Linked DNA regions of Homo sapiens. The protein of the gene in region 2 interacts with the protein of the main gene of each other region in a pairwise test. Each region holds a gene or a part of one and is shown on either strand. Other genes may lie near its edges.

What was found. Proteins that work in one complex are often made in the same cells at the same time.
Region 1: the proteins of IQCB1 (region 2) and KIF9 interact in binary tests that used the Homo sapiens proteins (3 or more experiments, as listed by UniProt).

What each region holds. Positions count from the first base shown.
Region 1 is NC_000003.12:47,227,472-47,230,812, forward strand, and holds the end of KIF9 (kinesin-like protein KIF9), read right to left. Parts: intron 1,232-3,341; coding exon 1,181-1,231; 3' UTR 527-1,180; downstream 1-526. UniProt on the Homo sapiens protein: Essential for normal male fertility and for progressive motility of spermatozoa.
Region 2 is NC_000003.12:121,797,055-121,804,093, reverse strand, and holds part of IQCB1 (IQ calmodulin-binding motif-containing protein 1), read left to right. Parts: intron 1-4,719; coding exon 4,720-4,898; intron 4,899-6,866; coding exon 6,867-6,976; intron 6,977-7,039. UniProt on the Homo sapiens protein: Involved in ciliogenesis. The function in an early step in cilia formation depends on its association with CEP290/NPHP6.

The DNA.
Region 1 (3,341 bases), about 75 Mb from region 2:
ACTGCCAGGTGAGCAGAACCTCCTCTCCCACTGTTGGAAGAATAACAGAAACCTCAAGGCCCTGATGAGGGTGTCAGACGGGGGAGCACCCACAGAGTGTCAGGCCAAGGCCTTGACCCATAAGAACAGAAGAGGGGGTGAGATACAATTCCAAGGAAGCACTGAAACTTTTCGCTCAGTGGAGACTTGGTTTACCAACCCAGGGGCGTATCAGTCAGCCTGGAAGGCCCCAGAGGGCCTGAGTTTGTTCTCTGAGCAAAGTAATGAACTCTTTCCCTTTGGTGCCACCACCAAGGGCCCAAGCTGCAGCCTGGTAACTTGATAGAGAGTGATATCTTCTCTCTTCCCTGCTCAGCCTTGACAGTGATCCCAGTTCCTATTCAGGGTAAATCGTTCACTTTCACTTCTGCTCAGTGCAGCCTACACGGAGAGAGAAAGCGGGGAGGGGAGGCACCCTGGTGCCTGGTGGCCGTGCATGCTGCGTAGGGAAGGCCGTGGTGTTCTGGAAACATGCAGAGGACATGTCTCCCAGAAGCTGCTCATTTATTCCCTGGTACATGGAGCCAGCTCTGCCTCATCCCTTTCTGGTCTCTGTGGCTAGACCTTATCCTCCCCTGGTTGCCAAATGAAGGAGGGCCTCCTCCTGTCTTCTTCACTGGCTCAGAAACACAGAAAAGATGTCTTGAGAGAACTTAGGGTCTGAGGGAGCTGTGAGAAGCAGAGCTCCTCAGACCGAGCTCACCACCCCCACCCTAGGATGTCTATCCAGGAAAGGGGCTGACCAGTGTGACAAAGGCCTGCCAGGAGGAGCCTGGCTGAGCTACTTTTCTGCCTTCCTACTTGAGACTCAGTTCTGACCTCACACATACATAGAGAATATGTCCTTTCAGACAGGAAATAAGACAAAGTTCTCAGATGAGCACTGAAAGTCCAAACTAGAAAGTTATTTTATCCTGTCCCTGCATATAAGACAGTGAATTAAAACCCAAAGTGCTCTGTGGAGATGAGCAAGGTTGTCCTTGGAGGATGCTCCTCCCAACATGCAGGCCAAATGTGTTCTCTGTGCTGGGTCCCAGCATTGGAGTAGAGGGGGCTGCAGCTCTGGGCAGGTGGTTGAGCAGCTCCACTACAGTAGGTGGGAGTTGCTGGTCTTGTCCTTTAAGGTACTGGCGATGAGGTTCTATTTTCTATGTGCCTGCTGGAGGCCCATCATGGTTTTCAAGTAATTATGCTGGACACAGAGGGAAGAGAAAACAGGAACTTATTAGGAGGGACAGACATAGCAGGGACTCAGACCAGGCCACTCACATTCACCCTATCATTCCTCCTGCAAACATCATGGGTTGTGGACAAGGATTCCTTCTGAGTAGCCCCAATTCTCTGAGAAATAACATCCATTCAAACTCTTTCATTCTTTTATCCTAAAGAAAGTGTGTAAAACTATTTTAAAACAGTCTGGCAGGCATATTTGAAAGGAGGCATATAGGTTTCAAGGGCATTCTTGGGAGTTTCTGATAGGGAATAGGTTCAGAAAGAAAAGAAGAGGGTTCTATCTCCAGAGGAGTTAGGGGCCAGGTATTCAGAAGGGCCCTCTCTTTGCCACTGCAATCAATCAGATGTTCACAAATTATACCTTTTTAATGCATCACTAGGCTCTTAGAAAGCAGGTGAAAACTGTAGGCTGAAACAGAAACAGTGGGCTGTAAGCCAGCAAACGCTAAAACTAGCTTGGAACATGGAATCTTAGGTTCCCCACAAAGTAGGAGTCTGAATTGAAGCTCCCATATTAAACTGGAATTCTTGAAGAGGGTTAAAATGGTCCTGGGTTGGTAATGCCCCATGGGTAACTGCAGAAAGCAAGTGCAAACCTTTTCAGGGGGAAAATAATTTCTATTTATGTGTTCAGGTCTCCTTGAGCTTAAGTTCAATCAAACACAAGGTCACGATTTCAATACACACACAAACACACACACATACACACGCCACTGTCAAGCCACCATGAGACTCAGTAAAACAGGAAACAGATTTTGACCATGAAAAATCTGATCTATATGTTTCCTATATAAAAGTATATATTTAAATAACTAAAACATAGAATTGAAAGAACATGGAATGGTTCGAGTATAACATTTGCATAAAAAGTCTGTGCATGGGCATATCTTAAACATTAAAAATGGCCAACACAGAGAATTATAGAGATTGGGGAATGAGAGAATAGAATTTTGACCTGTAGAAATACAGGACTCCTCTGCTTAATGATTTAGAATTTTTTTTTTTTTTGAGATGGAGTCTCGCTCTGTCACCCAGGCCGGAGTACAGTGGCGCAATCTCGGCTCACTACAACCTCTGCCTCCCGGGTTCAAGCGATTCTCCTGCCTCAGCCTCCTGAGTAGCTGTGATTACACGTGTGCACCACCATCCCCGGCTAGTTTTTGTGTTTTTAGTAAAGACAGGGTTTTACCATGTTAGCCAGGCTGGTCCTGAACTCCTCACCTTAAGTGATCCACCCACCTCAGTCTCCCAAAGTGCTGGGATTACAGGCGTGAGCCACCGTGACTGGCGAGTTGCACATTTTAAATGGGTGAATTGTATGGTATGCAAATTCTGTCTCAATAAAGCCTTTTAAAAAGCATAAAATAAGAATTTATTTAAAATAACTATCTGGGCACAGGGGCTCACGCCCATGATCCCAGCACTTTGGGAAGCTGAGGTGAGATGATTGCTTGAGCCCAGGATATCAAGACTGCAGTGAGCTATGATCGTGTCACTGCACTCCCTCCAGCTTGGGTGACAGAGCAAGACCTTGTCAAAAAAAAAAAAAAAAGGCTGGGTGCAGTGGCTCATGCCTGTAATCCCAGCACTTTGGAAGGCCCAGGCAGGAGGATCCCTTGAGTCTAGGAACTGAAGACCAGCCTGAGCAACATAGGGAGACCCAGTCTCTATTTTTAAAAAATTGTTTTTAATTAAAAAGAAAAAGAATGCCAGGCACGATGGCTCATGCCTGTAATCCCAGCACTTTGGGAGGTCGAGGCGGGTGGATCACCCGAGGTCGGGAGTTCGAGACCAGCCTGACCAACAGGAAAAATCCCATCTCTACTAAAAATACAAAATTAGCCGGTAGTGGTGGCGCATGCCTATAATCCCAGCTACTCAGGAGGCCGAGGAAGGAGAATCGCTTAAACCTGGGAGGCAGAGGTTGCAGTGAGCCAAGATCACACCATTGCACTCCAGCCTAGGTGACAGAGGAAGACTCCATCTTGTGGGGGAAAAAAAAAGAAGTTACCCAGGCTGGGCACAGTGGCTCATGCCTCTAATCCCAGCACTTTGGGAAGCCAAGGCGG
Region 2 (7,039 bases):
AGAAAATAGCAAAACAAAGAATTTACAGCTGATAAGCCAACAAAGGCAATAAAAATTAATCATTAAAAAATACGCAATCCAGAAGAAGGAAGTAAAAAAAAAAGAAGAACAAAGGAGAAACAAAACCAAGTGGTAGATTTAAACCTATCTATCTTAGATGTAAATGTGGAAAAACTAAAGTTAAAAGACAGATTGACAGATTGGATTTAAAAAGTACAAGCCTACTATATGCTGTCTACCAGAAATGCACCTTAGATATAAAGACACAAGTAGGTTAAAAGTAATGGGGTGGAACAAGATATACCGTGCTTATACCACAGAAAGTTGAAGTACCTGTATTAGTATCAGATAAAGTAAGTTACAGAACAAAGAATATTTCTAGTGCTAAAGAAGGTTATTTCATAATCATAAAAAAAGTCAGTTCATCAAAAGGATGTGTTTATTGACCTAATAGAGTTTTAAAATACACAAGCAAAAATTGACAAGAACTACAAGGAGAAATCCTCAATTAAAGCAAAAGATGTTAATATACCTCTTTTGATATTTAATAGAATAAGTAGACAAAAAAATTAGTATGACCACAGATTTGAACAATAATATCAACCAATCTGACCTGATTGACATTTTACAAATATTCTACCAAACAGTAGCAGAATACATGTTCTTTTCAAATGCAGATGGAACATTTACAAAGAAGGGTGCATATTCCGAGCCATAAATAAAGTCTCAAGAAACACAAAAGGGGCCGGGCACGGTGGCTCACACCTGTAATCTCAGCACTTTGCTGAGGTGAGCAGATCACTTAAGTCCAGGAGATCCAGACCAGCCTGGGCAGCATGGCAAAACCCCATCTCTACAAAAAGTACAAAAAATTAGCTGGGCATGGTGGCAGGTGCCTCTAGTCCCAGCTACTTGGGATGCTGAGGTGGGAGAATCTCTTGAGCCCAGGAAGCAGAGGTTACGGTGAGTTGAGATCACATCACTACACTCCAGCCTAGGCAACAGAGCAAGACCCTGTCTCAAAAAAAAGAAAAAAGCAACGTAAAAGGATTTCAGTTATACAAAGTATGTTCTCTGGCCTCGATGGAATTAAGTTGGAAATTGATGCCAAGAAGATCTCTGAAAAGTCCCCAAATATGTGGGAAATAATAACATTCATCTAAATAACTCACAAGACAAAGGAGAAATCAAAAGTGAAATTAGAAATTATTTTTAAATGAATGGAAATAAAAACAACATGAGAATTTCTGGGGAAATTCTTAATTAAAGCAGAATGATACTTAGGGGAAATTTATATCACTAATGCCTATATATTAGAAAAGAAGAAAAATCTCAAATCATTGACCTCGGCTTTCCCCTTTAAGAAACTAGGAAAAGAAGGGGGAATTAAACTCTAAGCAGAAGAAAGAAAATGATAAAGGTTGAGCAGAAATCAATAAAATTCTAAGCAAACGTGATAGAGAAATAAACCATAAACTGGATCTTTGGGAAGATTGAAGTTTTTTGAGAAAACAAACCATAAACTGGCTCTTTGAGAAGAAACCTGTAGCAAGATTAATATGGAAAGGAAAAGACATAATACAAATGACCAATCTCAGGAATTAGAGAGGTAACATCGTAACAGAGTCTACAAATACTAAAAATATCACAAGGGAATAATATAAACAACTTTATGCTTATAAATTTAACAACTTAGATCAAATGGACAAATTTATTGAAAGACGCAAACTACCAAAATTTACTCAAGGAGCAATAGAGAACCCAAATATACTCTAGATAGCTATAAAAAAAAATTGAATTTGTAGCTAAAAACCTTCCCACAAAGAGAACTCCAGGTCTGGATGGCTTTTTCACTGTGAATTCTATTAAGCACTTCAGGAAGAAATAATAATCTTAAGCAAACTTTTCTAGAAAATCGAAAAGGAGGAAACACTTACAACTCATTCTATAAGGTCAGCATTATCCTGATACCAAAACCAAACAAAGACATTATAAGAAAAGAAAACTACTCATCAGTATATTCATAAACATAGATAGAAATGTTCTGAACAAAATTTTATAAGTCAAATTCAACAATATATTAAAAAGTTAATACGTCATGAATAATTCTGGTTTATCCCGGCATTCAGGGCTGGTTTAATATTCTGAAGTCAGTCATTGTAACTTATGTTAACAAGCTAAAAATGGAAAAAACATACCATCATATCAGTAGATACAGAAAAAGCTTTTGACAAAATCCATTATCTAGCCCTGATTTTAATTAAAAAAAAAAAAAAAAAAAAAGGCCTTGCAGCAAAGTAGTAATACAAGGGAACTTTCTCAGAAAGCAGATCGGTGGTTTCCTGGGCATAGAATGATAGGGAAGGCAACAAGGGAGGAACTACAATGAAATACAAGGAAGCTTTTAGGGGTGATAGATATATTCATTTTCTTGTTTTATGTTGGTGAAACATGTCAAACTGATGAAATTATATGCTTTACATATATGCAGTTTGTTGTATATCAATTATATTTTTAAAAAGCTGTTTAAAACAAAAATTATGATGACTTGGTGAATGTTTTGATATGGGGTAGATAAAATAAATGGTGCAGTCAGATATGATACCAAGTTTTCTGTATTGGGTGATTAGACTGTGGTATGTGGAATATATAAGAAGTTGGTTTTGTGAGACAGATGATTAATTCAATGTTGGTTATGTTGAGTATAGGTAGTTCAACATGCAGTAAAAGTAAGTATCTATATAAAGACTTATACACAAATGTTCATTGAGCTTTATTTGTGAAAAACAAGGACTAGCTAAAACTCAAATGTCCATCAGGTGAATAGGTAAACTAACTTCTGGAAGAGATTGGGACTAGAGTTACAGATTTACAAATCAGCTTATACATGGTAGAGAAAAACATGACAGAAAGTGAGATTAGTAGGAAGTGTGAATACAATGAGAAAATAAATGGCTTGAAAATGGAGTCTTGGGGAATAACCTTTTAGGGTTATACTGGGGAAGTGGAGCCCACAAAGACAAATGAAAAAGAATGGTCAGAAAAGTATGGGTGGAAGGTAGAGGGGAGACCAGAACTTTGTATCACAGAAGCTGAGTAAGTAGAAAGTATCAGATACAAACAAGTCTAGGAAAAGAATCACTTATGGTATATATGTGACTTGACATTTGGGAAGTTATACTGATGAACTTATCAAGGATAGTATAGTGAAATAGTAAAAAATGAAAACTAGATGCAGTGGTTTGAGAAATGAGATGTGAGATAGTGGCAACAGAAATTGGATTAGAAGAGAAGCAGAGAGATAAGATGGTAGTGGTATAGAGAGGATGTCTTTAAGATTAGGAGGTTGAAGAGCATCTAAAAGCATTTAAACTACTGTATTACATTATAGCACAAACTCTTGGTGGGATATGGAGTAAAGATGTGATAAGATTGGGATAGGGATATCTGTAGAAGGCTTTCTGAGATGAGCATATTTTTTAATCTGAGTTTTGAATAGTGTGATGACATTGACTGATGGGACAGGGTGAGCATCCTAGGCATAGGGAATAGCATGTAAGAGACACAGTGGCACAGAAGTAGATGTCACAAAGATTCTCACATATTTTGATTGGATAACTTTATAAAGTCTTTCAACTCAGAGATTTTTACATTTAAGGTATGTTGCTGATCTCTTTTCTCTTAACAAAATTATTTTAGTAACTACTAAAGTACAATTTTCAAAAAGCTCAAACATGAGTCTTATACAAATATAAAATTTGACTGCTCAAAATTTTATGCAACTCATTAATGAGGGAACAAATAAGATATTTATACAGGGTCAAAGGAGAATTTGAGGAAAATAGATTTATGGAGTTGGTTTGTCGAAGAAATGTAGAAGTAAATTTGCTGATAGATTTTTAAAATTTGCTAATAGGAAAATATGACTTATAAAGCAATGTAGCTTCTAGAATTACCTTTTCTACTGGACAGAAATCATTTGTATTGCTTTGAATAAGAGTCTGTTTACATTGCTCTTAGATAAGAATCTTTAGCATTGTTTTCTACCAGCCAACCTCTATTTTTACAGAATTGTAAAGTATTTTAATAGTGAGTAGAAAATTAAACAGAGGTACATACGCCTAGAAAATCACATAACTCCTTAAGGGGGTAAATAAAAGGATACTCACTAACCCTTTCCTTTTGACTATTTCTAAGTTTTAGATAATTTTTCACAACATCAGTAATACAAGATGGGTTGTTAGTATAATGAAGGAAATACCAAGGAAAGATTTTAAGTTTCTCCTATATTAAGCACATGATAGAATTCCTATGGCATTTTTGTCTTTGTACATCATTTAAAAATTAACTGTGTACCTGTCTTGATTTCACTTTTATCATTGCCTTGAAGCTTTTAAATTATTTATTGTTTAGTATTTTGCACATTTATATTTCATCCTTGATTTGATTGCAGGCTTCTCTAAGGAGAAGGCCTTTGGCTACTTTGTATTCTCTATTGTACCTAGCACACATGGCACCTTGCACACAGTAGGAATTCAATAAATATTAAGTGACTGAATATGATATCTTCTTGGAACCAACATATATTTGAAAAAGTGGTTATATTCTTGGATCAGGACACAGTCCGGCATCAAGTTACTGAATCTTATATTTTAGATTTGTTGTGATACCTGTACATCAATTAGTAATGGTACTTTTTTTTTTATTTTGTTCTATTAGTGGTGATTTACTCAGAATAGGAAGAAAAGCCCTGTATTCAATTTTAGATGAAGTTATTTTCAAGCTTTTTTCAACTCCTAGTCCAGTTATAAGAAGTACTGCTACAAAACTCCTACTGTTGATGGCTGAATCCCATCAGGAAATTTTGATTTTACTGAGACAAAGTACCTGCTACAAAGGTAGTACATTCATTCTTTCTTTTCTTGGGATTCTCAAAAAGAAAATTTTTATTGATGGTTTATGAAAAACAAAATTCTTATATTTTAAAGAGTTGATAACTGACCTATGTAGATAAAACTCACAACAGATACCAATTCAGAAAAAAAAAAGTCTTTATATAATCAAGCTATCTTCATGTCACTACAGATAGCATGTGGAAGATACTTTTCTGATCAGGTTGCCATAAATATTTACTCCCTCTCTGACAAAAAGGTTTTGTGTGTTGAATATACCATATAGTATAGTAAAATAATGACCAAAAAGATCAGTGACCTTATCAAGACCAGCTTTAGTGGAGAAAATGGAGCTGTGCTTGAGAGGCCAGTGGCCCTTATGGTATTTTGAACTATCAATAATTACTTAACACTGCCTTTCCTCAAAAACAAACAAAAAAAATTGCCTTACCTCCAAAATCAAATACATATGTGAATTAAAAGTCAGAAATTTTGAGGATAAAAGGAGTAAGCGTATATACATTCTCATATAATAGCTTTCATTTAATTGAGCATTTACTGTGTGTCAGGCACATTCCATATACTTTATATGCATTAAAATGTTTAATCTTTACAACAATCCTATGGGATAGATATTCTTATCCTTATTTTATAGATATAGAAACAGAGACATGGTAATTTGCCCAAGATCACAAAGGTAGTATATATATTGTTTAATTGCCAAGCAAAGTTATATGTTATCTTTGTTTTATTTCTTTGCTGACCAGAGCCATGTATGTATTATAATCTATTTTTCTTATTCAGCGTGGTCAGGAAATGGGATTCTAGTTCATTAAATATACTTATTAACATAGGGTTATACTGTATGGGAATTTTTAAAGGTTAGAATATAATATGATGCATTTAATACCTAAACAACTAGAAAGGTCTTTATCATTCTTGATGATTTTGAAGACATTGTAATAATGTACCTTGAATTAGTCATTACTGAGGGTATTGTAGGAATAGAGAAGGAAAGTACCAGTAATAGAGCTCTTTAGTTGATATTGTGCCAGATAGACATTTTTCAATTCTGTAATTCAATTCCTAAAGAAATGTGAATGTCCAACAGAGTCGTTATAAAGGAATTTTACCTGAATCCTTCTCCCTTTCTTTGACTTATATCTCAATAGCAGAACTTATTCAGATTCCTGAAGATATTTTACAATTATTAATACTGCTGAGAACTTGGGTGTTGAAGAGAGTATAAGGCATTAAAAGATCCATATAGTGGTTTCCCCAATTATACACTACAAGGCAATTTTACCTTATGTATTTATTTTGAATACACACATTATAATACATCATTTCAGTGTACCCTGGAAACAGTACTTACTTTGTACCTTTCACTACTACTATGTATTATTTTGGCATGAAAATGTACTATCCTAGTGTTGTAGCACTTCACCTATAATGTTTTCCCAGGAACCTATTGATTTGCCCCAAATTATATATGTTACCATATGTTTATATTTAATAATCTTTTTCAACTAATAATGACTAATAATAATCTGCATAAGTGCTTCCACAGGGCAAGCATTTACTGAATATGTGTCTGTAGTAATTTATCTTTAAAATGTCTCCATTTAAGTATTTTTGTTCAAATAAAAAAAATTTATCTCTACTTTTTGATTTACCACAGTGATTCCATCCCACTCCTTTTTTTTTTTTTTTATTAAAGAGATTGTCTAGACAGATTTTTTTTTTTTTATCAGATACCACAATTGAGCACGTAAGAATTCTCAGGAGGGAGGAATATCTTAAAGATTTCAACCTGGAATTCTCTGAGAAAAGGAAAAAGAAAAATCATATGATTAATCTTGTTTTCATTTGTTTTTAAGCCAGACTTTTTAGCTTCAAATTAATACTGATTAGATAACAAAATCATATTTTATTATTATAATAATAGTTGTACCTTTTGCTATTCCATTTCAGGACTCAGACGTCTACTAAGTAAACAGGAAACTGGGACTGAATTCAGTCAAGAACTTAGACAGCTTGTTGGCCTTTTAAGCCCAATGGTCTATCAGGAAGTAGAAGAGCAGGTATTAAGTTACAAAAAAAAAAAATTGCATGATATTTGCTGACTATATTAAACCTTAGTTTTC